Linked DNA regions of Homo sapiens. The protein of the gene in region 3 interacts with the protein of the main gene of each other region in a biochemical or structural test. Each region holds a gene or a part of one and is shown on either strand. Other genes may lie near its edges. The genes, in order: RLIM, NFIA, LHX3 and NFIC.

What was found.
Region 1: the proteins of LHX3 (region 3) and RLIM form a complex in vitro, tested with the Homo sapiens proteins (2 studies listed by BioGRID).
Region 2: the proteins of LHX3 (region 3) and NFIA form a complex in vitro, tested with the Homo sapiens proteins (one study listed by BioGRID).
Region 4: the proteins of LHX3 (region 3) and NFIC form a complex in vitro, tested with the Homo sapiens proteins (one study listed by BioGRID).

The regions. Positions count from the first base shown.
Region 1 is NC_000023.11:74,590,625-74,597,649, reverse strand, and holds part of RLIM (E3 ubiquitin-protein ligase RLIM), read left to right. Parts: intron 1-1,649; 5' UTR 1,650-1,672; coding exon 1,673-1,841; intron 1,842-3,260; coding exon 3,261-3,344; intron 3,345-4,588; coding exon 4,589-6,210; 3' UTR 6,211-7,025. UniProt on the Homo sapiens protein: E3 ubiquitin-protein ligase.
Region 2 is NC_000001.11:61,078,365-61,085,569, reverse strand, and holds the start of NFIA (nuclear factor 1 A-type), read right to left. Parts: upstream 3,010-7,205; 5' UTR 2,810-3,009; coding exon of another isoform or gene 2,779-2,809; coding exon 2,752-2,778; intron 1-2,751.
Region 3 is NC_000009.12:136,202,104-136,209,001, forward strand, and holds the start of LHX3 (LIM/homeobox protein Lhx3), read right to left. Parts: upstream 3,026-6,898; 5' UTR 2,910-3,025; coding exon 2,831-2,909; intron 1,087-2,830; exon of another isoform or gene 937-1,086; coding exon of another isoform or gene 843-936; intron 1-842. Other genes in the region: QSOX2 (sulfhydryl oxidase 2 precursor), read right to left, coding at 6,625-6,898. UniProt on the Homo sapiens protein: Transcription factor.
Region 4 is NC_000019.10:3,460,569-3,467,593, forward strand, and holds part of NFIC (nuclear factor 1 C-type), read left to right. Parts: intron 1-2,183; coding exon 2,184-2,201; 3' UTR 2,202-7,025.

The DNA.
Region 1 (7,025 bases), on a different chromosome or scaffold from region 3:
CATTTTCATAAACTTTGTAAATTTGTCCAACTAGGTCTTTTTCCATTCCATATATATTTTTACCATTCCAGTAGTAACATATCTTATTATGAGATTCTGCTTCAGGTTTTGCTGAATTAGTTTTCTCAACTTTGAAAATATTCTCACCTATGATTATTTCATGTAGACTACACATAGGGGCTACTTCTGCAGTTCAAACTCCTTGAATAATCAACACTTGGCTCTTTGAATAAACAATAACTTAAGTAGTATCAGTTACATTTGTCAACAAATCAAGAGCCAAAGAGAAAACCACTCCATCATTTACCTTATTTTTCAGTTGATTAGTGACATTGCTTTTCAATATTCCCAGCTTTTTGGACCACTATACTTACCAAAAGTCCAATATTATGTTTATTTTCTCTGGACACATTTCTTCAGCTTCTGCACTCAAACATAATTTCACTAACTCACCATCAATAAACAGCTTTCCTCGTTTAGCCAATAAATGAGCCCCTGGGAAATTTACTTTGATTGAAGCCTCATTTTTATTTTTGTGAAGAAATATTTTGTGATGAGATTTCACTTTAAATTTTCTAACTTTTTGAACTGTAGTTTTCCTGTGAATTGGGAATATTGTCACTAGTGTTTAATAGTGTCAGTATATATTGTATTTAGTATATAGTATTTTTTGCATAATCATGCATTCTTTGCCATCTAATCTGATTTTTGAAAAACCCATCCTCTGCTGCACCTTTAAGCGTGACATTCAGAGTCCACTTTTCTCTTTGTTTGAGATGATGAGTGTATACTCAGTTTTTTTTAATGTCCAGTGTGAAGGCACTTGAAATGCTGTCATTATAGCTACATCACTGCAACTTAAGAGTGCACAGAGCAGCAGTCCAAAGCAATGGGAGTGCCACATACAGTCTGTCACAACTGCTCAACTCTGCCATTATAGCACAGAAGCAGCCATAGATAACATGTAAATGAATGTGTATGGCTGCGTTCCAATAAAACTTTATGAACACTAAAATGTGAATTTCATTGCATTTTCATATGTCACAAGATAGTCTCTAAAAACCATTCTTAGGTTGCAAGGAGAATAAAAATATGCAGCACGAGGCTGGGTGCGGTGGCTCATGCCTGTAATCCCAGCACTTTGGGAGGCTGAGGAGGGCAGGTCACTTGAGCTCAGGAGGTTGAGACCAGATTGGGCCAACATGGTGAAACCCTGTCTCTACTAAAAATACAAAAATTAGCTGGGCGTGGTGGCAGGTGCCTGTCGTCCCAGCTACTTCGGGAGGCTGAGGCAGAGAATCACTTGAACCCAGGAGGTGGAGGTTGCAGTGAGCTGAGATCGCACCACTACACTCTAGCCTGGTTGAGAGAGCGAGACTCCATCTCAAAAAACAAAAAATACCACAGTATGGCTGGATTTGGCCCAAGGGCTTTAGTTCGCCAACCCTGTCTGGTTCAAGGGCTGTAGTTTGCCAACCCTTGACCTACTCTTAATATAACAGTGCTTTTCAGGAGTTTTTGTTAGGAAATTTCATTTGAGGTCTGAAAATCCATCTCTAGACCTACATTCTGGATTTTCACATAATTAAAACTTGTATAGAATACATAGTGACCTTTATTTTCAAGATTAGTCTCTTTTCTCTTTTCAGGTATTTTCCACTTGTTCATCAATATGGAAAACTCAGATTCCAATGACAAAGGAAGTGGTGATCAGTCTGCAGCACAGCGCAGAAGTCAGATGGACCGATTGGATCGAGAAGAAGCTTTCTATCAATTTGTAAATAACCTGAGTGAAGAAGATTATAGGCTTATGAGAGATAACAATTTGCTAGGCACCCCAGGTATGCTTACATATATTTAAGGATTTATAAGTGTAAGTTGCTGGTTTAAAAAAAAATGCTTGAACCTGTTTTAAAAATCCATTTCTTTAGCCCTTATGAAATATTATTTAACATAGGGGATATGGAATGACATTTATTGCTGTATTTATTACCTGATTATATTTACTGATGTTTGGAATTACACTATATCAGAGAGATTTTTAACTTATGAATTATGAATTTTTAGCGAACTGAATTGAAAAGAATGGAGCTAAATCTTTTTTTTCTTAGTTAGCTTTATCTAACTTACTAGATAAGAATCCGAGTGTGGAATAGCTAATGGGAACTTAGTTTTTAGGAAAGACTTATTCTGTTATCTCTGATTTTCTGAATATGTCCCAGTTGTAATCCTCCAGAGCTAGCCTTGGGTAACATAGCAATTAGAAGTTTGTGCTTAATTATCTTTTACCCCACTAAGTCCCATTTGATCCTAGTTAAAAGTCAGTATCTGTCTTCCTCTTCATTTCTGTTTAATTCTACTTACCTTTGAGTAATTGCTTAGATTTTAAAAGGTAAGGTTTTAGCATGACTTTTAAGAGAGGGAGTGTGTTTTTAGCCAACAATACCAGGCTTGAATCAGAATGCTTTAGGTGGAGTTCTGGCCCTGCTGTTTGGTGTGGCTCCTGGCAAGCCAGTCTGTCGCTCAGTCTGTTTCTTAATTTTAAAATGCAGATAACAATATCCTCCTCTCAAAGCTGCAATTCTTAAAAATTACTTACTTATTTATTTTTGAGACAGGGTCTCATGTTGCCCAGGCTGGACTCAAGGGATTCTTCCGCCTGAGTCTCCCAACGAGCTGGCACTACAGATGTGGTACCACTGTGCGCCCAGCTTAGAATTGCCTTTGCCTTTTTTTTTTTTTTTTTTTTTTTAAGCAGAGTCTTGCACTTTCGCCCAGGCTGGAGTGCAGTGGTGCAGTCTCTGCTCACTGCAACCTCTGCCTCCTGGGCTCAAGCGATTCTCCTGCCTCAGTCTCCTAAGCAGCTGGGATTACAGGCACCTGCCACCATGTCTGGCTAATTTTTGTATTTTTAGTAGAGATGGGGTTTCATCATGTTGGCCAGGCTGGTCTCGAACTCCTGACCTCCGGTGATCCACCCGCCTCGGCCTCCCAAAGTGCTGGGAGTACAGGCGTGAGCCAAAGTTAGATGTTATATGCAAAAGAACTTTGTAAATTGCTTTTAATATGTTTCCAAAGAAGTGAATTTTTCCCAGGACCTACCTACTCCTTGGTTTTTCTTTTTGGTTTGAAAAAGTTTTCTCTTTTAAAAATATGATTTTTTTTCTAATCATCTTGTGTCAGATTACTGTGAGTCACTGATAAAGTATTTGATTGTCATACCCCTAATGTCATCTTTGCCCTGTGGTGTTAAATTTCAGGTGAAAGTACTGAGGAAGAGTTGCTGAGACGACTACAGCAAATTAAAGAAGGCCCACCACCGCAAAACTCAGATGAAAATAGAGGTATGTTTTGGTTTTGGTGGGGAGGTGGATAGACGATGGGATGATAGGAACTTTGTAATAGTAAATGTCAGCCAAAGATTATCCAGATTTGGCACAAATTAATTTGGTGCTAAGTAACTGCTCATAAAAAGAAAACTGACATTTTCTTGATACTTAGAATGTCAGCATTTTTTTTCTACCTCACCTTTGAGATGTTTATGTTAATTGGAACACAGTGAGAAATGGCCCATTTAAATGTGATTTTGTTTGTTTGTTTGTTTTTCACCTCCATTGAAATTTATTCCTACTTAATTCCTTCTTTATAAACATGTGACTTCTTCACCAGCAAAAAGAAATGTCTAAACCCAGTGGTTCCTAATGAGATATAATTTTGCCCCATGTGGGACATTAGCAACGTCTGGAGACATTTGTGTAGAGGGCAGGAATGCTGCCAAACATCCTGACATGCCATAATGCACAACACAGCCCCCATGACACAGAATTAACTGGCTTAAAATGTCAGTAGTACCACTGTTGAGAAATCCTGCTCTAACCTCAGGTCTGGTGTTTCCCTCCCAGTGTCAAGTAGGGATTTTGATTGTGCAACCTGAGAGGCTACGATAATAATTTGGTTCTTGAACATGCCATTATATGTGCTATGCAAGGTTCAGACTACTTATTTGATCTGATCTTTAACTTCATGTCCATTGAAAACCTTGGTAACATTAAGAAATATTCAAATGCTTTTAAACCTATAAATCTTGTTTGTATTTTTCTTATGGCTACAATAAATAGTCCTGTATTTTAAAACAACCTCAAATGTTATCAAAGGCACAGTATGTAGACTAATAAAAATTTGACAGAAATGTAGCTTGAACTAAATGTGACTGTTCGTTAAACACTGTTTCCTTACCTAGTTTGATTACATTAGTATTTTGGCAGAGGACTGAAAAAACGTCTTCTGACCATCCCACAGTGGTATGCTTGGCTCTGTATATGATAAAATACTGAAAATAGACTTCCTCCAGATTCCCTTTAAAAATCAAATAATTCTCTAAATTTCTCTAGTGTAGCTTGCTCTTTTCAAATGGAATTAGAATTTTCTTACCTTATAAATTTATGCAGTATAGTTTGTAAAAATCTGTAATTATGAAATGTGTTCCGAATTTTTAAGTTATTTAATGCAGAGTTTCAGAGCACTTATATGATTGTCCTCATTTTAGTAGTTCCTTTTTCTCCCTCTCCCCCTCCTTTGTTTTGAACAGGAGGAGACTCTTCAGATGATGTGTCTAATGGTGACTCTATAATAGACTGGCTTAACTCTGTCAGACAAACTGGAAATACAACAAGAAGTGGGCAAAGAGGAAACCAATCTTGGAGAGCAGTGAGTCGGACTAATCCAAACAGTGGTGATTTCAGATTCAGTTTAGAGATAAATGTTAACCGTAATAATGGGAGCCAAAATTCAGAGAATGAAAATGAGCCATCTGCAAGACGTTCTAGTGGAGAAAATGTGGAAAACAACAGCCAAAGGCAAGTGGAAAACCCACGATCTGAATCAACATCTGCAAGGCCATCTAGATCAGAACGAAATTCAACTGAAGCGTTAACAGAGGTCCCACCTACCAGAGGTCAGAGGAGGGCAAGAAGCAGGAGCCCAGACCATCGGAGAACCAGAGCAAGAGCTGAAAGAAGTAGGTCACCTCTGCATCCAATGAGTGAAATTCCACGAAGATCTCATCATAGTATCTCATCTCAGACTTTTGAACATCCTTTGGTAAATGAGACGGAGGGAAGTTCTAGAACCCGGCACCATGTGACATTGAGGCAGCAAATATCTGGGCCTGAGTTGCTAAGTAGAGGTCTTTTTGCAGCTTCTGGAACAAGAAATGCTTCTCAAGGAGCAGGTTCTTCAGACACAGCTGCCAGTGGTGAATCTACAGGATCAGGACAGAGACCTCCAACCATAGTCCTTGATCTTCAAGTAAGAAGAGTTCGTCCTGGAGAATATCGGCAGAGAGATAGCATAGCCAGCAGAACTCGGTCTAGGTCTCAGACACCAAACAACACTGTCACCTATGAAAGTGAACGAGGAGGTTTTAGGCGTACATTTTCACGTTCTGAGCGGGCAGGTGTGAGAACCTATGTCAGTACCATCAGAATTCCCATTCGTAGAATCTTAAATACTGGTTTAAGTGAGACTACATCTGTTGCAATTCAGACCATGTTAAGGCAGATAATGACAGGTTTTGGTGAGTTAAGCTATTTTATGTACAGTGATAGCGACTCAGAGCCTACTGGCTCAGTCTCAAATCGAAATATGGAAAGGGCAGAGTCACGGAGTGGAAGAGGAGGTTCTGGTGGTGGTAGTAGTTCTGGTTCCAGTTCGAGTTCCAGTTCCAGTTCGAGTTCCAGTTCCAGTTCAAGTTCCAGTTCCAGTCCTAGTTCCAGTTCCGGTGGTGAAAGTTCAGAAACTAGCTCAGATTTATTTGAAGGCAGTAATGAAGGAAGCTCATCATCAGGCTCATCAGGTGCCAGGCGAGAGGGTCGACATAGGGCCCCAGTCACATTTGATGAAAGTGGCTCTTTGCCCTTCCTTAGCCTGGCTCAGTTTTTCCTCTTAAATGAGGATGATGATGACCAACCTAGAGGACTCACCAAAGAACAGATTGACAACTTGGCAATGAGAAGTTTTGGTGAAAATGATGCATTAAAAACCTGTAGTGTTTGCATTACAGAATATACAGAAGGCAACAAACTTCGTAAACTACCTTGTTCCCATGAGTACCATGTCCACTGCATCGATCGCTGGTTATCTGAGAATTCTACCTGTCCTATTTGTCGCAGAGCAGTCTTAGCTTCTGGTAACAGAGAAAGTGTTGTGTAATTAAGATCTGAACTCTCAGCTATGTAGCTGATATAGTGATGGGCAAACAGGAATCACTTGCTTTTATGTCCACTTTTTGAGTGGTACTTAAATGTAAAGTAACAACCTGAATTGAGTCATTGCTTTCTGAAGGAATCATTGTCCTTTCTCCAGTTTTTGTTCCAGAATAAAAGGAAATATTTTAAAAGCCACGTTATAGGACCTAAAAATCTGATTTCCGTACCAGTTAAATTGGTAGCATCACTGTTACTGATAATTTATCATATACACTTGTCAATTTTTCCTTTGTTATCTTAAAAGATCTGCCTTAGCAATGGCTCCTTTTTCATGTTGATCTTTAAATTTTCCCACACCATAAGAGAGGAGCAAAGGAAATTACCAGTTTAGACTAAGTTACAGTATGTGTTTCATAAGTGATTAAAGCTATATCATTCCCAGTTATTAGTTAACACAAATTCAGCCACATTCTGAGTATTGTTTGTTCACCTTTCAGACTTGGTGATACTGGACATGTCAGTGTAAATAACACTAAGGTTAGGATCTTCTAAGTGTATAACTGTCTCCTAAGCCCATCACTGTGGCACACTGTAGAGTGAGCTTATAGTTTAATTGAGATATTTATCTTGTGGAAATATTAAAAAGCCTATGCTTGTGTAAGTGAAAAAAAATCACATTCATTTGTTTAAAAATGTAAAGCTATTTTGTAGAGGCTCAGTACTTTTCCAATGCACTGTTGTATGAATGCATTAAAAATTGTAAAGTACCATGCTTAGAACTGAGAAAACTGCTTTTTGTGAGCCAACATAGTAACAAAC
Region 2 (7,205 bases), on a different chromosome or scaffold from region 3:
AGTAGTGTGCCCTTATAATTCATGTTGCTGAACATATCGCTATAAGCTAGGTACTATTTCATAACATTCAAGAGGAAAAAAAGAACGTTTTACATATGTACTCAGTGAGAAAGTTATAGGCCACCAATAAAAACAAACCTGAAAACCTGTTTCAAAAGTGGTATTACTTTGAATCAGCATCTTAAACATTGATCTGTTTGAAAGTGAGCCAAGTTTAAGAACCACTGAATGCTGATATTTCTGGAAACTACTTTTTTTAAAAGTTCACCTACAAATTTCTGCTGGGTTATCATTATATGGACAGTACCTGATTTGATTATATGCCCATATTTGATTAAAATAAGATGTCTAGGTTTTTCTTGGTAAAGTTTTTTTTTAAATTGCCTACAAGTTAAATGGAGTTTCATTTAGAGTATAGTGATAGAAATCACTGTGCTTACTGATTTTTTTTAATGAGCAATAAACTACCGAAGTTCTTCTTCCTAAAACTGGCTCTAAAACATTATAAATATCCCAGCAAGTTAAATAAATTGTAAATAAATTTTTAAAAGCAGAACCCATAAAATATGAGCCCTCATTCACTATTTATTGTACATTTTCTTTACAAACTGTTACACTAAATAAGCATTTCTCTTAGTGGTGTTTCCAGAAGAAGGCCTAGTGAATGCATCAATCAACGCTGCTGAATATGTAAGCCGAAAAAAAAAGAAAAAAAAAAACTCTCTTAATGTCATAATACCTCATGAACCAACAGAGGCCAACTTTGTTAAATACCTGACTGTGCCCTAGGCCTGCATGGATATACAGGTGCCCTCATATATGCACCATTCCCAAATATAAATTTATCTTTTCAGAGCTCAATTGAGAAGACACTAATGTATCTGTTAGGGTCCTTTCCCTTTATTGCAGCTCGCTGATATTATCTACAAGTTCTGTGTGTTGCAAACTTCTGCCAGCTAGAACTTCAGCCTTCGAATCTCAGCATTTTCACTATAGTCCGTAATTCATTCAAATTATCTTACACTTTGCATCTTATCCATATGCAATTGTGAACCTTGCCAGAAGTGGTTGGAAAAGTTTCATTCCATACTTCCACAAGTTACTAAAATAGGAACTTTGGAAGTTTGTTAGGAAAAAAAAAAAAAACTTTTACAGTAACTAAAAGTAACTGCTATCCATTATTAATGCTAGGCCTAAATCCCAAACAGACCATTTCAACATAAAAGATGCGTTTAAGAGTCTTCTGAGATCAAATACCCGGTATTATTACTGTTAGATATTGCAATAAGAAGGGATGTCATGTGGGAAATAAATCCAGAATCTAGAGAGGAGAGCGAAAACTACTGATACTTTTTAGCCTTCCAGAAACTATTCCGGTTAAACCGTTATCTCCTACTAAATGAAGGCAAGAAGTGGTAGGTTTTTTAAGGGAGAGGTGAATAAACATTTTATGTGAAGCATATAACTTCATGTAGGTGATTAATGGTCAGATCCTAATGTACCAAAGCAGTATGAAATCTCACGCTTAAAAAAAAAATAGCGCAAAACCACTTTGACTTCAAGCCTTTTAGTCAAGGAAAACAAATAACATATTCAAAGGGGACCGGATTTGAAGTCTCGAAGTAGCAATATTTTGCCTGGGGGTGGGTAGACAAGGGAGGAATGGACAGGGGGGCACGGAAAGGAGAGGCGGTGGGGCGCAAGAGCCCCATGCTCTGAGTTGAGTCGGAGGGGAAAAGTTGCCCCCGTCCTGCGCGCGGAGCGGCCGGAGTCGCGCGGTGGCGGTGGTGGTGGTGGCGGCGGCGGCGGCGGGGGGAGCCGTGTCCGGCCCGGGCCGCCGCTCCGGCTCCCGGCTAGGAGCCCAACTCTGCCCGGCGCTACCCGGCCCGCGGCCCGCGGCCTCCGGCGTTCGGCGCCCTGCACAACGTGGGCTCGTCTCGGCCCCGAAACTTTCACTCCGGGAGAGCCAACGGGCCACCGGCGCGCGGCGAGGACGCAGGCTCCACCCGGCCGGCGCGGGGGAACGCGCGTCCACGTAGCCCCGCTCAGCCGAGGGCTAGCCGCAGCCTGCCCGCGTCCGAGGGGCGCTGTCCGGGCCGGGGCCGGGACGGGAGCCCGCGTCCTTTCCGCGGCCGGACCCCGAAGGCTGACAAACAATAAACAAAAGTAAGAGTTCGGGAAGACGGCGGGGGGCTGCGGCAGCGCAGGCTGCGGGGAGCGGGCCGTTGGGCGCAGGCACCCGAGGTCTCCCCGCACCCGAGGACTGCAGCCGGCCCGAGCGTGCGGGGTGAGCGGTGGGCTCCGTCGGCGGCCCCCTCCCCGGGCGCTGCGGCACTACGGAATCCCTGCTCCCGGCAGCAGAAACGCTGAGCCAGATTTCTGCGTGTCATGGACTGCAACCCCGCCGAAACACGTGCGGGGTGTCCGAAAACACTGCTGTTCCGCAGTCCGTCGCCCCGATATTAATTAACGCATTAATAAGAGGGCGCCATTAGCCATGTGCCCACACAAATGGCCGTGCAAGAGGAATGCACCCGCATGGAAACAAAGTTACTTTCTTTAAGCGGGATCCCCCCCCCCACCCGCGGGCACACGCGCGCACACACACAGAAACACGCGCAGACACAGACACACACCGAGACGCACGCCCTGGGCCCGGCCGGAGCGACGGCCCCGGTGCCCCCCACCCAGCCCCAGCCCTGCCCCCGGCGCCCCGGCCCCCAAGCCCTCCGCATCCACGCCGCGGCTTACCTGGGTGAGACAGAGCGGAGAATACATAACTGCCGGGCGCTGGGGTATGCGTGTGCGTCTGGGTGTGCGGTTTGGAGGTGTGCGTGAGTGTGGGTGAGAGAGGAGAAAGAGGGAGAGAGGAAGAGAGAGAGAGAGAGAGAGAGAGAAGGGGGGAGAAAAAAAAATCAAGCCTGCTTCTTGCGTTCACATTTCCAAGTCGGCTCAACTGCAGCCAGCCAGCCAGCGCTATTGCCGCTCCATGAGCTGAACTTTAACCCCGCCTAGAGTTTCCCTACACTCCACTATACATGCCTACTGTACGCGGGTGTTAAAGGCATAGCGCACCCTTTCCCGCTCCCGCGCCGGCCCGGCCGGGTGCCCGCGAGCTGCCCGCGCGCCCGCCTCCGCCTCCGCTCTGCACCGCACCGCACAGCCGCCGCCCGCTCGCGCCGCCGCCGCGGGGGGGAGGGGGTGTGGGGGAGGGGGCGGCTGCGGCGCCGCGCGGCCAGCCGGGTCCCGAGCCTCCGCGGCCGCTCGCGCTCGCAGGCTGGCTCGCTCGCTCCCCGGCTCTCTCCGTGGCTCGCTCCTTGCTCGCTCGCTTGCTCGCTCTCCCGCTCGCTCCCCGGCCCCCCCGCCCCCTCCCCCGATCAGCGCATTACTGGGTAACGCAGTGAGGAGCAGTTACAGTCTGTACTCCCGGGCAGCTATAGGCTGCCACAGGATGTGCTTAAGCAAACAAAACTACTTTTCCTCGTCCCCATCCCCCCACCCCCGCTGCAGACCTCCGCGGACCTCGGTGGAGGACTTGGGCAACTTTGCCAGGTTGCCCCGCACCCCCCGGGCCACCGCGTGGGCACGTAGAGAACCGAGGAGGAGGCCGGGCGGCACATTTGCATGTATGCAAATTTCTTTGAAAAATCAGACCTCCTAGGTAACTTTTTTTCCCCCACTGAAATGCGGTAAGGCTCAAAGCATTGTAATCTCTCCAGCGAAGCTTTCTGTGGGAATAGATTCGTCGGCAGAGGTAATTATGCACACAATCCTGCAAACTTTGTGCAGCTTCGGTCCTGTGGCATTCAGAAGCGGGGGTGGTGAGGAATCAGTGCCCACAGAAGATTCACCGGATTTGGGGGGCGGGGGTCTGGAGAAAAGAAGGCGGAGATTAATGAGCGTTATCCCTCCCAGGACTGTGAAACTAGTGGGTTTGAACACAGACGCCATAGAAAAAGTTCTATCACGTTCAGAAACAACAGTGGTTTAGCTGTGACATCTTTTACTTTTTAGGAGGAAAAAAATATGTGAAAGGGATGTCCCCTTAGGGAAGGGAGATATTCTGATCCACAAACGCGTGCCCAGAACTGGACATAGGCTATCATTACCGTCCCAGTTTCTGGGACACCTCTGGAAGGGTGCCTTTTAAGAATCCCTTTTTTCCCTCCCCCAGGTAATAGTTCTTAAAATGGAAAAGAGCTTCCTGCAATTATTTTAGGTTTGCTAAAGTATTGTTTTGGCAGAAAAGAGGGGGGTGGTTTTTAGGGTTTGGCAAGTTGCCAGTAAGCCTGCTTTTCCAGTTTTTTTTTTTTAACCTCATATTTTCTCTCTAGGCTCTCCTCTCTCGGAGGGGGGAAAGCCTACCTGCCTCTTCTAAGCCCCCATCCCTTATTTTACTTCTCTTCCTCATGATGGTTTGCAAAATGCTGCATTTGACAACCCTTCTCAAAATTCCAAAAGGAAAGAGGTAGGTATCATGTTGAAAGACACTGGCACACAGGGGAATCTGCCCTTCGGTGGAGGTGACATAACCAGAGAGTCTCTAAAGAGGGGACATTCCTGTAGGAAAGTGAGGGTAAGTGATGTGTTAACAAGTGAGGGTGAGTGATGTGTTAAGGCCACTCTCATTCAGACTTCTTTTCAAAGCAAGGGGCAGGAAATACTGTACTGGAGAAAGAGCAAAAGAGAACCTCTGAAATAATTCTGCATCTGTCTAAAGTTATTTTATGCTTGTACTTTAGTTACTTTATTGCCAAAATAATTCCCGAATGCTCAAGAACCATTCTCTCTCCCACCCTCCCTCCTGAACATCCTTGGAAATCTCTCAAGATTATTTACTAAGGAGTGAGGAGAAATAATGATTTCAGCCTTTAATGAGAGAGTCCATTTTCCCAAACTTAACCCACTGCTTTTCCTTGGTTCCTCTCAGATTTTAGTAGGGGAGGAATGTCCTAAAAGCCAAGCTGTGTTACAGAGACAACATCCCTGGCCACGAGAACCTTTGCTGGGATCTATAACTTCAATGCGCTCCAAGTTTCCTCGATAGAAGTTTCTGGCTGACGGTCCCAACATGTAACTGAGGCACAGTGAAAAGTTATTGTTCAGAGTGTGTACTCGGGAAGCTCTCTTCCAGAGCAGATTAAAATCTTTCTTTTGGTGTATTAAAAGATACACTTCACATCTGCCTATTTTCAAAACGGCAAAGATTCTTACTTTTGAGTCTCAAGGAAAAAAAAGATTTTTTTTAAAAAGGACTGGCATGTCGCCCTGTTTTTTTTTTTTAATGGGGGAAGTAATTTAATGCTGATATTTCTACTTTAAAAACTTCTTTTGTTGCAGCAGTGGATGTGCCCCGCGATTTCCAGCTTTCTGCGGTTAGCAATATTATCTTAAGTAACTTTTGGCGCCCTTCGTAAGACTTTTGGATATGGGACGATTGTTTGCGCCCTCTAGGCAAGGGCTGGATCCAAGTTCAGCACCAAAGCCCTTCACATCCGCTCCTGCTTTCTCTCCTATCTCCGCCAGCTCCCGCTCCCTCCCCCGCGGAGGGAGGGGGGGAGGCGGGGGAACACTACAAAGCACAGTTCCAACTACAGCCTTTGGAAACAAGACTGAGAAAAATACAGTAGAAGAGTTACAGTTACAGAAAGGCTTCTGGTAACTTTCTCTCCAACAGGCATAAATTTAAACACACGCACAAAGAAACAGATGTTCCTCAAAGGGCAGACTGGGGGTAAAAAACATTTCCAACCCTCTCCCCTCTTCCCAAGTTGCAAAAGTAAATCCTTGTCCAGAGTTCACAAAGATACTAAGGCACTTGAGAGAGAGCAGGGATGGAGGAGGAGGGAAGAAAGAAAGGATAGTAGAGAGAGCAGTGGAGGAAACGCAGGTGAAGTATGGAAACTAGTTCACTGCAATCATATAAATGACCCATTGTTAGGAAGGATAAACCCCTTATTGGAAATAACCTCTCCAATCATTTATTTTCCAAGTGGTAGGAGGCTGCCTTGAAATGGGATTGTCTCTGCGCAAAGGAGGCTCCTGTCATGCTCTCTGCTATCCATATTCTTCCTGGCACAGAGCCCAGCCTTGCATTTACTGTGTTTTATTTGCAGAAACGTTACCTTGCCAGCTTTAGTGAAATCCTCTTAGATATATAAATTACGTCAATAAGGTTTCACTTATATGTACATCTCAAATAGCTCTCATTTTGGAGGTTACTTAATAGGGAGATCTTATTAATATGATTTAGATTTTAATACCCAAAGCAGTGAAGATAGGACTGGGATTCATAAGCGACAACACCATAACTCTGTAGTTCTTACCAAAACTAACTTTATTAACTGGCATTTTTCAACATTTTTTCTTCTCTGGTTTTTGACCTGCTGGTCACTTCTGTGCAGATTTTTCTTATGTGCATATAATCCTAAATTGAATCATGTTGCTGAAGTGAGTGTCCAAGTGAATTCTTACATCAAATTTCCAAGCCAGATTTGACTGGAAGGCCTAAAGCCTTGGGAAATAGCTCGATGGGAATTTAATCCAAAGAAGGGAAAGAGCCCATATTATTTTCCATTCACTTCCCAACAGAATTGGGTGTCTACGCTGCTCAGAGAGGAGGAGATGGAGATATTTTAGTCAGAGGCTGCCAGTTACTGTCTCCAAGACAAGCTACTGCAGTTGGTTTCCACTGGATTTGTATCAAGCACTTGTCCAAGAGGCCAGACTCCAACTAACAGTTAGCAAGTCAGCGATCTTCCATACACTCTCCACGGGGGTTGTTGTGGTAACAAGGAGAAACGTGAACTTGGCCAGTCTTAACGTCCTATTTCCTACTGACCATATACTTAAAAAGCAGAATTCAAGAATAGCCAAGAAAAAACACTCCCCTAATTTCTTTCAAGTGTGTAAGACAGCTGCTAGTCCACATGTGAAACATTCTCTCCTTTAAAACTGTTGTTTAGAGTTCAAGAAGAGAGGTTTACCTATTAATTTCAAAGTACTTGAAATGCCAAAGCTTCTAAGATAATCAGAGTAAGAAGTTTTGTAATGCTGAATACGCAATATATTACTTCCCAAAGCTCACTACAGTCCCACAATTCAGGCAAGATTTAAGCCACACGTTTCTTAAAGTTGAACTTCACATTCCACAAGTTACCAGCTTCCCTGAGCATAAAAATAATAGCTAATGCAAAGTTAATAAC
Region 3 (6,898 bases):
TCCGGCCAGCTCTCCCGAGCGCGGGCGCGCAGTCCTCCTTCCTCCCTCCCTCTCTCCGCCCCCCAGCCCCCGCGGCCAACCCCTCCCAGGAACCGTCGAAAAATAAATAAATAAGTAGGGAACCGCGAGCCCCCACAGCCTGGATGTAACCCCCTTCCCGCCGGCCGGTCCCTCTCACTCCCCACTGGCTCCGGGGCCTCCTTCCCCATCCTGCGGCTCCAGCTGGCCCGGGAGTCGAGGAGAACTGCCCAGGTTCCCTAAGAACCAAAGTGCTGGGAGCTAGAGTGGTGCCACCAGGAAGCTGGGGGGCCTGGAGAAGAGAGGCTTTTTCCTACAGACGGGCCCTGAGCGGGGATAAACCGAGCGGGTGTCTGTGGGCGCAGACGCTGAAACCTGACTTCGGGGAGACCGACGGTCGGAGTTCAGCTCGACCTTGGCCCCTGCATCTGACTCTGTTCCGCTGGAACGTGGAAAGAGTCCGGCTGGGGCGGCCTTCTTGGGGACCCTCCTGTCCCGTGGTCACTGCCCCGCCACTGCTCCCTGCGCCTCCTCCAGCCCAGGGAGCTGGCTCCGGGCTGCAGAGGTCTCCTAAGCCCACCCTGGACCCCCGAGAGCTCCCTGGCCGGAGCAGCGCAGTGCCACAACCTCACTCACTCCCTGACAACCCAGGCCAGGGGCCCTGCAACAAATACAGGCTGAGGCGCCCAGGCGCGGACGTTCCGGGGTCCTCGCGCCCACTCCCGCCCAGATCCTCTAGCTCCTGCCAGCCTCCGCGGCCAGGCCCGGAAAGGCCTGAGGATCTCCTGGTCTCCCCGGTGCAGCCACTCGGCCCGGGCACCCACCTCGGCGCAGGTCCGCCCTCCGCGCCAGCAGTGCTAGCAGCAGGTCGCCTCCCGCCGACTCCCGGGCCGGGCCCAGCTCCCCGCGCGCCTCCATGGGTCCCGCCGCCCGGCGTCGCCACTCTCCAGTCCCGAACTTTCCCGGGCCCAGCGACGCCACCCCGCAATAGCCCCGAACCGGCGTCCAAGCGACTCCGGGTGCTGCTGGGCGCTGCGCCCGCGGGCCGCCCTGGGGCCCGGAGCCTCTGGCCGAGCGGAGGGCGGAGCGGCCGGGGGGCGGGGCCGCGGGGCGGGGCGGGGCCGGGGGTCGCGGAGACCAGCCCGGGCCACTGCGGACTCTGAGCGCCTTTGCGCCGGGACCTGCGGTGCCCAGAGGCCGCCCCGCGTGCCCGGCCCGAGGGCGGGCACCGGTAAGGGAGGGCCCAGGTCAGGGCTTCCCGCCAGCGTTCGTCCCGGCCCCGCAGCTTCCTGCGCCGGAGCGGCCCAGAGGCAGAGGCCTGAGCTGGAGCACACGCCAGGAGGGCTAAGGTTCCCGGGAGAGGGGTCGAGAAGGCAGCAGGGTCCTCCCGCCGCTGAGGTTTGGCCTCGGGAGCAGCAGATGGTCGGCGGGAGCTCAACCCGAAACGCAGAAGGGGTGAGTGTGGCGCCGAGGGCTGCGTACCGGAACCGCAAGGTGCCGGACCGATCCCAGATGCTAACAGGCTTCTGGGCTCCACCCCTGGAACTGCGGCCCCGGACGGCTCAGGGAGGAAGGGCAATCCTTGAGAGAGAACAGGCTCTGTGTCCTGGACACGCAGCCAAGACCTCGGGTCGTGAGGGGCCGAGCTGGGGAAGCCCCAGGGCACACCTTCCATTTCCAGCCCCCAGCACTCCGGCTCCATTGGAACACGGTCCCTTACCTGATATTTCAGCCTCTTGCCCCAGTCCACACAGGTGAGCTCTCCAGAACCCACCTGTCCTTGCAGGCAGAGGGACGCACCCACCCCTGCCCAGAGGGCCCTGGGCCAGCACCAGCCCTGGGCAGCCACCCGGGGAAGAACACAGCAGTGGGTGGCCCTCGGCAGCACAGGACTTGGCAAAGGCAGGGGTGCCCTGGCAGTGCGCAGAAACACACAGGAAGGGTTGGGGGACCAGGGGCTGATGCCATCCTGCAGGTCCCTCTCCCTGTGGGTCTCACAGCAATACTCTGTCCACTCTGCCTATGGCTTCTGGACTGTGAGCTTTAAGGGCCCAGGCCCAGAAGGATGGGCACAAGAAACCACAGTCCCTCCCTCCTAGCTCCCAGCAGGTCCGATGTGTCCGTTTTGAGCAGTGGCCCATGCAGCCAGCTTTCTGCCCCTTCACTTTGCACAGCACTTGTTACCCAAGAAGGGCCAGGGCAAGGACACGCGGGTGCAAAGCCGAGTGTGTGCGGGCTGTGCTGGGTGCAGGTGGCTGAGTGTCAGCTGCTGCCGAAGCGATCAGGGGTCGTGTGTGGCAGGACTGGGGAAGGGGCGGCGGCAGGTTAAGGAGGCGGCCCACCCTGCTGGCATCTGGCCAGCCCTCCAACAATGCCTCCATTATTTCCCAGCGTCCGTGGTGATGGAATGGCCCTTGGGGAGGGTGGTTCAGGCGGGAGACACAGGCTTGGGTCCCCTGCTGTGGGGTCCAGAGACCTGGGCCGGGCTGTGTGCAAGAGCTGACGGGCACTGGTCACCGGGGGAACCTAGCACCCCTTGGTCGGCCCCATCGCCCCCCAGCTGTGCCTGCGATGCCCCCTTTTTTTCTAGGGGCCTCCACTCCAACCGCTGTCCCGCACTCTTGCAGGCCAGCGTCAGGCCCTCCCCGCCACCCTGGGATCTGGAAACTCACTCTCTGCAGTTTCCATCTCTGTGTCCCGCCTGCAGAGCGGCGGGACTTTCTTTGCCTGGCCGCTGGCCCTGCACGCACCCCCTTCCTCGCGCCTCTGCCGCCCTTGCCGTTTCTGTCCTCAGTGTCCTGCTGGGGCTTACCCCGAGTCCCGCCCAAGGTGCAGACGGCGGCGGCCCCGGGCCTCGCTCGGTCGCGCTCGAGCCCCGTTTCCAGCAGCATCGCGGCCACCAGGCCGAGTGGCGCGAGACGCGCTCCTCCTAGGTCAGCGTCCCCTGGAGGGTTCGGGGCTCCCAAGTCCCGCCGCGTCGTGCGGGGCAGGGAGCCCGGGAGCCACTGGGCCTGGCGCTGTCCGCGGTGCTGAAGGAGGCGCCCGCTGCCCGCCCCGCCCGCGCGCCCGCCCACCTCCCGGGGCCCCTCTCGTCGCCCCGGTCCCCACCCCCGCCTCTGCCCCGTGTCGGGCGCGCCTCCCTCCCTGGCTGGGTTGGGCCGCACTCAAGGCAGCCCCCGCCCTCACCCCTCTGAGACCCAGGGTGGCCGTGCCCGCTCCTCCCTAAGCTCCAGGCCCTGCTGAGGCGCTGGGATTCGCCGAGTTTCGCAGCAAGCGGGTCGTCCAGCCGCAGGGCAGGAGGACACTGACCCTACCCTTCTGGCGTGCAGCCTCTGGAAGGCAGTGCCCAGGCCGTGCCCCGGGGCAGCCCCATGCGTGATCAACTCCAGCCCAGGGCTCACTGGGGCACTCTCCTGCAGGTGTTTTGCTGGTCAGGGAACTTTCCACTCTTAACCTCCTTGAACTCAACCCCCAACTTCTGGGAGGAGCTCAGCCCGCACCCCTCCGGGCTGCCAGGAGGAGAGGCACCTGCAGTCCCCTGTAACAAAAGCACTGCTGAGGACTCAAGACCTTGGGCATAGGCAGGGCCTGAAGGAATCGCCCAGTACACACCCAGGCTGGTGTCTGCTCGGTGCCTGACGAGTGACTGAGTTACTGCCAGCCTCTGCACAGCCTGGCCAGGGAGGTGCCAACCGGCTTCCTCCACAGCCACAGGCAAGACTGTTGACCACTGCCCTGCCCCCACTGGCACAGCAAAAGTAGGGGAGGGGCAGAAGACAACACGGGGTCAAGGGCACCCCACAGAACACCACAAACAGCCTTAGCAGGACACTCACACCCAGGAAGCAGAGGGATGGCCACTCAAGCAAGCTGGGGGTCCTCTGAGGTGCCCTCAGGCTGGGCTGCCGCGCGTGCTCTTTGAAGTGTGTAGCTGACATGCATCTCAGCTGCCCTTTAACCTGTGTAAAATCAAGGGTCTTGTCCTGTGAGTCTCGTCCAGATCAGCTCCAGGGAGATGATCTATCACTGCTTTCCATCTTCTACTTTCCATCCGACCCTTGGGCTGTGTCCCAAAAGCCAATGATTCGATAGGAGAAACTCTAGGATTTCAGATGTCCAGTACGTGAACAAAAGAGGGGTCCATTCTGCACCCACCGCCTCTACCACAACTCCCACTGGTAGAGCTGGTTCACATTTCAAAAGAATCACCATTTTTTCAAATGTCAGATTTCTTTATTAAAATGTGCACATTATAGTTTACTTAAATACAAAATGTTCACTTTCCTTGCAGGTAAGAAATTTCACTGACATTTCCATGTCAATTAGCTTCTTTTTAATAAAAATCCTTCCACTGAAAATAAATAAGCATTTAAATTACTGAACTATTATATTCATTAGTCTCAATACCTCTTAAAATACTTAAAACTTTAGAAAATAGACTCTAAACATTGCCTAAAGGTGGCATCCAGCTCTGAGCAGGCCACACAAGGTGTGTCTGAGTATGGCCATATGACTCCTGGGGCCACCTCCACGACGGCCCAGCCCCACCGACGCTCTGCTGAAAATCCTGCCCCTCAGCAGGACGCAAGCTTGTTCCCCAAATAGTGGTGACCTCAAACTGCAATATGATGAAACCTGCAGCCAACACTGCCCTCCACAAGGGTTTCTGGAAAGGCTGAAGCTGGAGACGGTAAACCACAACACCGTCCCAGGTCACTCCAGGTCACCCCAGCTAAAGACATTCAACACCAGCCAAAAGGCTAAAGTTTAGTTTGAAGGGTTCAAAGGCAAATACACTGAAACCCACGTGTAAACCTGCCTGGTTTTCAAACTGGAAGAGAAACACTTTGGTGTCTTCAATAACCCAGGCCTGCACTGGATGAAGCAATGAAGGCAAGGTCACGGCTGCTAAAGCACAGAGGGGTTAAAAAGTGTGAAACCAGAAGCAACTCTCGAGTGAGACACGAAGCAGCAGGCTGACGCACCAGACACCGCTCCCACCAGACACCTCTCCCGCCAGCTGCAGGGCCCTGGGCAGCGTTCTCAGCCCAGCCATTCTGTGACAGTTGTTGAAAGAATCAGCTGTTGCCTTTTTTTCTCAAGCGACAACAATCACATCAATATTACATGGTCTTATGAATACATCCATGTCATCAACTTGTTAGTAAACACATGATTATACAACATAAAGTAGGCAAAGCGGAAAAAATATCTACAACCGTCAAAGTCTCTCTCTCTCTCATACACACACACACACACACACACACACACACACACACACGGGCACACAAATACATCTGAGCCTATTTTAGCCAAATCAAATTTTGCCTGTGAGACACACCAATAGCCACAAAGAATCTCAATATAAATGTTCCCAGAAATAGTGTATTTGTTTGTTTACATCTTCAGAGGCAACGGACCACTAAATGTTTTGGGTTTAAAAACAATGTTTAAAATTATCAAATGGTAAAAGACATCATGACAAAAGCTTGGGAGATCAGTGCCTGTGTGGAGACCCTTCCCAAAACAGCTTCAGGCAAAGGAAGCCTGGCCCCCTCCGTGGGCCGAGTGAGATGCTTGTGTGTGCAGCAGGTGCCTCTGTGGTGCTGGGTGAAGAGCAGACGACAGGGGGGGCTTTAGAAGTCTCCCTGGGGCCTACGCTCCCAAGGGCAGACTGCTCTCCTCCCCATCCCCCAACAGAGGGGCCTGTGCTCTAAGCACTGCCCGCTGAGCCCAGAGCTGCCCTCCAGGCACCCGCCGTCCCAACGGCCCCCATTTACTTGTCTCTCTCTTGTCACCAGATAGACAGACAAAGGCGCTGCCTCTGAGGGTTAAATGAGCCCCCATCCTTCCAACCCCCAGGTCCACAGCCCAAGGCCTCTGGGGGTTATTTTCTGAAACGCAGCACAGCCACAGAATTCCTTGGCTCCTCCCCTGTTGAAATCCCCACGTCTGGTGTCGAACACCCGGAGGAACAAGGAGAGCCCTCAGGAACCTGCCCTAGGGAAGCAGCTACAAACACAGGATAGTCCCTGGAGCACTTGCTTGGAGGGGCTGCAGAGGCCGACTGCGCTTCCGGCTCTGTCTGTCCCCGCCCGGCTAAAGGAAAACACTTGGCAGCCTGGAGCAGGGGGCGTGGGGGGAGCGGGGGGAGGGGGAGCGAGGGGAGTGGGGGGGAGCCAGGAGCCGCGGGGGGGATGGGCGAGGTTCTCCAAATACAAAAACAAGGCCCTGCAGGATGGGGCGGAGTGGAGGAAACGAGATGAAAGTGTGTGGGGAAGACTATCTGGCCTGGACTCTGCACCCTCTTTTCACATCTAGAAGAGTAAAAATACAGAAGTCTTTTTGCTGTAAGACCTGCAAAAGGAGCATGAACAGACTTGAGTACGCCAGGAATGCAAATATCCCCACAAAATTACCCCGTGTTCTTCCCTTGTTAGAAGAGCGTTTGTAAAACCAGGACTTTGAAGCCAAAAGGTGCCATCCGATGTGAAACCAGGCCCGCATGTTTATAAAATCCCTGATCATAAATATTAAAGCTGCAGGTGGCACGGGGCAGGGCTGCCTCCAAGGGAGCTTCCGCCGTGGCTGGCAGCACCCGGGCACTCACACGGCCGGGTGGTGGTGCTTGACCTTCCACCGCCTGGACCTCACCCGGAAGAAGAAGTACATCACCATGAGGAACAGGGATGAAGCCACGTACAGCACGACACAGAGACTCATGTCCAGGCTGGAGAAGTCAACCCCGAGGAAGGGTGCGGCCCCGCCCACCTCCTTGTGGGCCCCGGGCCCATCCAGACTCTGGAGTTTCCCGTCCAAGCTGTGATGCAAGCTCTCTGGAAGGGCAGGCCTGGGGCCCAGTGCACCAGGTGGACGGACG
Region 4 (7,025 bases), on a different chromosome or scaffold from region 3:
AATGGCACGATCTTGGCTGACTACAACCTCCGCCCCCTGGATTCAGACGATTCTGCTGCCTCAGCCTCCCGAGTAGCTGGGATTACAGGCACGTGCCACCACGCCTGGCTAATTTTTGTATTTTTAGTAGAGACAGGGTTTCACCATGTTGGCCAGGCTGGTCTCGAACCCCTGACCTCAGGTGATCCACCCACCTTGGTCTCCCAAAGTACTGGGATTACAGGCATGAGCCACCGAGCCCAGCCTCTTGTTTACTTTTTAAAAACATTCTCAAGGCCATGTGCAGTGGCTCATGCCTATAATCCCAGCACTTTGGGAGGCCAAAGCAAACGAATAAGCTGAGGTCAGGAGTTTGAGACCAGCCTGGCCAACATGGAGAAACCCCGTTTCTACCAAAAATACAAAAATTAGCTGGGTGTGATGGCGCATGCGTGTAATCCTAGCTACTCGGGAGGCTGAGGCAAGAAAATCACTTGAACCCGGGAGGCAGAGGTTGCAGTGAGCCAAGATCGTGCCACTGCACTCCAGCCTGGTGACAAGAGCGTGACGCTGTCTCAAAAAATCAACAAAAAACCTCTTTATAAAGTGAACAAGGCAGCTGATGTGGTGGCTCATGTCTGTAATCCTAGCACTTTGGGAGGAAGGAGTTCAAGGCCAGCCTGGTCTACATGGCGAAACCCCACCTCTACAAAAAAAAAAAAAAAACTAGTCAGATGTGGTGGAACATACCTGTGGTCCCAGCTACTCGGGAGGCTGAGGTGGGAGGATCACTTGAGCCCAGGAGATGGAGGCTGCAGTGAGCTATGATGGCACCACTGCACTCCAGCCTGGGCAACGGAGCAAGACCCTGTCTCAAAATAAAATAATAAATTGGCTGGCCACAGTGGCTCACGCCTGTAATCCCAGCACTTTGGGAGGCCAAGGTGGGCGGATCACTTGAGGCCAGGAATTCAAGACCAGCCCGGCCAACATGGCGAAACCCGGTCTCTACTAAGAATACAAAAATTAGCTGGGTGTGGTGGGGCGGGCCTGTAATCCCAGCTACTTGGGAGGCTAAGGCACAAGGATCACTTGAACCCAGGAAGCGGAGGTTGTAGAGAGCCAAGATCACACCACTGCATTCCAGCCTGGGCAACAGAGCAAGACTCTGTCTCATAAATAAATAATAAATAGAGAAGAAAATAATTTTTAAAATATAAAATAAAGGCCAGGCAGAGTGGCTCACGCCTGTAATCCCAGCACTTTGGGAGGCCGAGGCGGGCGGATCACGAGGTCAAGAGAGTGAGACCATCCTGGCCAACATGGTGAAACCCTGTCTCTACTAAAAATATAAAAATTAGCTGAGTGTGGTGGCATGCGCCTGTAATCCCAGCTACTCGGGAGGCTGAGGCAGGAGAATCACTTGAACCTGGGAGGCAGAGGTTGCAATGAGCCGAGATCATGCCACTGCACTCCAGCCTGGCAACAGAGCGAGACTCTGTCTCAATAAATAAATAAATAATATAATATAATAAAGTAAGATTGAGTTCCAGACTGGGAGTGCTGGCTCACACCTGTAATTCCAGCACTTTGGGAGGCCGAGGAAGGTGGATCACTTGAGGTCAGGCGTTTGAGACCAGCCTGGCCAACATGGTGAAACCCCATCTCTACTAAAAATACAAAAATTATCCAGGTGTGGCGGTGGACGCCTGTAATCCCAGCTACTCGGGAGGCTGAGGTAGGAGAATTGCTTGAACCCAGGAGGCAGAGGTTGTAGTGAGCCAATATCACGCCATTGCACTCCAGCCTGGGCAACAAGAGCGAAACTCCATCTCAAAAAATAAAATAATAAATAAAATATAAAATACAGTTCCAGATAAATGGATCTTTTGTGTGTGGTGTGTAAGTATATCCCCAATGTTGCGTGGGCTAGACTTATACTAAAAGAATTCTGTGTTAACCAGAACTCCAGTTTCACTGGGCATCCTGTACTGTGTCTGGAAGCCTCCCTCAGAGACAAAGTCACTTGCCATGGGTCACCCAGCAGGTTGTTAGAGCCTGGGATGGGGAAACTGAGGTCACAGGGTTGCAGGAGGTGGGGGGTGAGCGTGGGAAGAGGTAAACCATGTCTGCAGCAGAGTCTGACCCCTCGACTTCTCTCCCTTTTTCTCTCTCCCTCTTTCTGTCGCCACTGGGCCACTCAGTCCTGGTATCTGGGATAGCAAAGGTCTTCTTCCCTCGCCCCTTCTCCATCGTCCCAGGAATCCCAGGGGGCAGCACAGCCGGCCCCCGGCCCACGTTTTCGGTGGAAAATTAGAGTGAACAAGAACACCCCTGCCGACTCCCAGCCCGGCCAAAAAGACAAAACACATAGACGCACACACTCAGGAGGAAAAGAAAAAACAAAGGCAGAAGAAGAAGAAGAAGAAATAAAAACCCACCCAAGCAAGAAGACAAAAGGTAAAGACGCAACGTTTCCAACTCTCGGGACGCCAAGGCCGCAGGACTGGAGGGCCAGGCCCCGCCACCCCCACGGGAGACCCGGGACAGGGCGTCTTCCTAAGTTATTCATCTCCTCTCCGCCTGCTGCTCGGGAAGGACAGACGCCGGCCGCCCGCCCGCGCCCCGGAGGCCCTGGCTCTGTCCGGAGACCAGGTGAGCACAGCCTGGAGCCTGTGCCCAGGGCCGACAGGCGCGACACCCAGCAAGGCCACCTCTCCCCGGGCCCCCGCGCCTCTGCCGGACACGGACCGGCCCCTCAGCCCCCACCGAGGACGCAGCCACTGGGGGGAAAGGGAGACACAGCGGACCCCGGCCGGGCAGCGGAGACCGCAGAGGCGGGCAGGGTGGGGCAGGCGAGTGGTGTCGCGGGGGTGCGTGGCGCTTGCGAGCCCTGGCCAGGGGAGGAAGTGAGGCCCAGGCACCTGCTGCCCCTCGAGGGGGCCCTGCCTGCCGCGGGGCCTCCCCACAAGCCCCTCCCAAAGCGCCGGCCGACTCGCTGTCTCGCTGGGGACTCTTTCAGCCCTCGCGCCCGCCCGTTTGGGAGGAGAAGTCTCTATGCAATTGGCCCCGGCCCCTCCACCCCCCACCCCCGGCATAGGAGGCCCCCCCACCTCGCCCGGCTCACACCCCCAAAGGGAGGGACCCACATTGCACACACTGTAAGAAATGCACTTTCCGAGGAAGGGGATGGGGGAGCCCGGACACCCAGAGCTCCCCGAGTTGGGGGTGCCCGTCTGGAGCGCCCCCGTCAGCCCCTGGCGGTGGGAGGTGAGAGCGAGTGGTTTAAGTGCCTGATTACCACCACCCGCCCCCCCCTTTGTCCAGCTGGGACACGGAATGGCCGCGGGCCTCCTCCCCCTCCCCTCCAGCCTCTCCACCAGCCCCTCCAGTCAACCCTCATCGCCGTGCCCCCCCAGAGCTAGAGAGATGGGGCCCCTGCGTGGCCCGAGGGGCAGAGCTGGGCGTCACTTCGCAAGCGTCCTGCCCTGCCGGGGCGCGGGGGTGGGCTCTGGGGAAGCCGGTGCGCCCCCCACGCCTCCGCTGCCAGTGCCTTACATTCTGGAGCGACCCCCCTCCCTGGTGCCTCCCAGCGAAGGGGGACCGCCGTTTGCACTTTCATCGCCTACCCCGACGCGGGGCCCAGCTGCGGGACGTGCATCACGGCTGGGCCCCCAGAGGAGAGAGGAGGCCGACGCCAGCGGTCCCCGCTCGGAACGGGGAGGGTTTTCGGGGGGTTCGGCGTCGCACCTTGGGGCCCCCCGCAGCCGTGTAGGGGGCCTCCCATCTGCTAAGCGTTTTTCCGTTGAGCCGCTCCAAAAACACTAAGCTGGGGACGCCAGGTGCCCCCCCACCCCGGCTCCCTGGCCCTATCCACACCTCCACCCCCACCCCAGGATCGCCATCTTTAGGGGAGGCCTGGGAGGGGGTGTTAGGTGTTTTAGGGCCACCGAGCTCAAACACAAGGACCCCTCCCCGGCCCACCCAGCCCAGCCCCAACTGACCTCCATGCCTAGGGAAAAACTCCCCCCACCACTGCCCCCTCCCCCGACCCAGGCCAAAGCCAGGGCAGGTCTCCGGGTCTCACCTGCTCCTAGCCTCACCCCCCTGCCCCCGAAAACCAGACTCTCCTCCCAAACTAGCCTCAGGAGCTTGGCGAACCCGCTCGCTCCTAAAGAGAAAGACCCAGGACCCTCCCCCATCACCCCCAAGAGAGGTTCGCCATCCTCTGGCCTCGAGCCCTTGGTCCCTCCGTCCGTCTGTCCTCGGGGCCCGCTCCCCCGGTGGCCCTTGGGGATCAAAGCGTGGGCCGCTCTCCGGGAGGGCGGGCGGGGGAGGGGGTGGTCGGGTTGTGCCATTGGGGTGTCCGGAAGCTTCTCAGCCAGGGTGGGGGTCGTGGAGTGGGGGAGGGAGGCCAGCCGGGCTCCAGAGGGGTCAGGGCGCGACGAGAACCAACTCTTTACCTAACTTTGCATGGTGCTTAGTCAAGGACTCCTGCGACCTGGCTCCCGAGGTCAGCTGGCGGCGCTGACACACATGCATGGCAGACTATCCCTGGCTCTATCTCCCTGTTCCTCGCCCCCTCCACCCCCCACTTCCTCTTTAAAAAAAAAAAAAAAAAAAAAAAGATACAAGAAAAACCTTTAAAAAAATTCCATGTTTCCTAATTTGCACGAAATTTTCTACCACAAGATGTGCCTTGCCTTCCGAGAATAAGTATTACCTTTAAACAATATCAGCGCACACACATAGCTGCATGTTCTGCTCGTGTAGTTTAAAAAAAAAAAGACAAAACAGTGACATGAAATAAAAAATAAAAATTGAAAAGGGATGTATTTCTATTTGTAAAAAAAATAAAATAAAAAATAAGAAAGTGAGAATCTAAAAAAAAAAAAAAAAAAAAAAAAGGAAGAAAAACCACGCTAAAAATCAAGCCACTGAAAACAATTGCCCCCAGGTCTACCCAGCCCCTGGCTGTCCTTGGTCCTGTCTCCCCTCCTGCTGTATTCAGGGGTGCCCCCTGGTGCTCAGCCTCTACCACCCCCAACCCTGCTCTTGGGTACCCAGAGGGGTCATTTCTGAATCCCTTGCCCAGAGGACAGACCTCCGGGGCCCATCTTGGCCCTGGGAAAGGGCTCTCCTCTCTGATTGGTCCCTAGGCCACGGGCCGGCCCCCAGACACCATTCACCGACCCACTGCAGGCTGTCCTCCAACCATGGGGTGGCCACTCCACCCGCAGCCAGACTCCCCGCTCCCCACTTTTCATGCAGGCTGGCATACCCCTGGCTCAGGGTCAAATGCTGTTCCACACCCACCTCAGAGGCACCCCCTCTCCCCTGCCCCGTGCATCCCCACCCTTCTTGCCAAAGGACCTCTTTTCCCCTATCCAGAGACCACCCCAGGTGGCATTCTCTCCCACCTTCTCCTTTGTCCCCCATCCCCTGTCTCTGTCTTCCAGCTGTGAATATGAAGGGTATCCTGTATGAAACAAAAACAAAACCTGATATATGCAATATCTGTCTGTCTGTCTGTACCCATGGGCCTGGCTCAGCCATTGGAGGCCCAGCCGAGGGTCCGGCAGGGCACAGGGACAGCCAGGTGGCACCGAGTCACAGGCTGTGGTCCGGTGGCTGAGCATGCTGTTGTCTTGTCCTTGATTTTATTTTCTTTTGTTCTTTTTTTTTTTCTTTTCTTTTTGTTTTTAACTCCAGCTTCCTTTGCTTTTTACTTGACCAAAGCTAAGACAATAGCCAGATGGTTAGTGGGGCAGCCAGGCAGGGAGGACCCAGGGCTGGGATTCTCCAACCTTAGGCCATTCCTGCAGCCCTCACCACCTCCAGCCCCTCCAAGCATCTCGTGTAGGGACCCACGCAGATGGTCCCATTCATTCACTATTGCCCCCAACCCCGGGATTTTGGGTGGTCTCCACAGCCACCATCATACACTCATCCCGTGTTTTCTTCCAAAAAGTCACCTCAGCAGCCTCCCCAGGCGATACAGAGGGAGAGCCCAGACCACCACAGCTGGCCACGACATTGCCCTTAAGTAATATGCATTGGCCAGAGAGCCCGGGCTGGCTGTGCACAGCATTCATGTAGCTGATTTCTAGCTTTTTTTTTTTTTCTGCCCCACTCCTGAGCAAATCTGTCTTGCCAAGGAACTAGGAGCAACCGGAGGCAAAGGGAGTGGGTGGCCCCATCACTATTGGGACCATCGCGTCCCTGCACAGCCCACACCCGGGGGCCCAGAGTCCTGGGCTGGACGCCACCCTTCTCACCCCGAGCTTGCCTCCTTGGCTCACTTGGCACCTTGGCTGAGTACAGCAGGCAAAAGCCCATACCAGGCAGCATGTTGTGGATGGTTTAGTTCTCCCCGCCTCCCTGTTTCTTGGAAAAGCTACAGGGTCCCTGTAGGGCAAAATTCCCAGGCGCCTTGCTGCAGACAGAGTAAGACAAAAACACCAGGAAGCAGGATTCCGTGCCCATCTCTGCAGTTTGGGTTCACAAAAGGGGGTGCCGTCATCCCTGGGTGGAGGAGGGAGTGTTGGTTTTTTGTTTTTGTTTTTTTAACATGTATGAAACTGACATCTTCTCAAATCTTGTTCCACCCCCCTCTGGAAGCCCCCATCACCCACCCCTGCTATGGACACCACACCTATGCCAGGCCCCCCCCCCCACCCCAGTCTCATTCTGGGGTCTGCCCATGCTGTGGGAAAGAATAGGGAGGCCTCCCAAATATATGCAAATTGTCCCCATTCCGTGGGGGCACCTGACAATGACCCGGGTGGAGATGGGGCATGGAGGAGTAGGAAGACCCAGCCCTATTTGACTGGGGAGAGGAGGATCTGGAGTCCTTCATGCCCAGGTCTGGAACCCAGGTTCTGACCCCAGGGCCCCACCCTGGGCTGGACAATCAGATCCCAAAGGAATGCCAAAGGGGACTCGGTTGGGAGAGCCGCTTAGGGGCCAGACCTGGGTCCCCCTGCAGGTCCCCAGGCAGCAGACAATTCCACCTTCCCTGCCCCAGGACCTTGAGAGACAGCAGC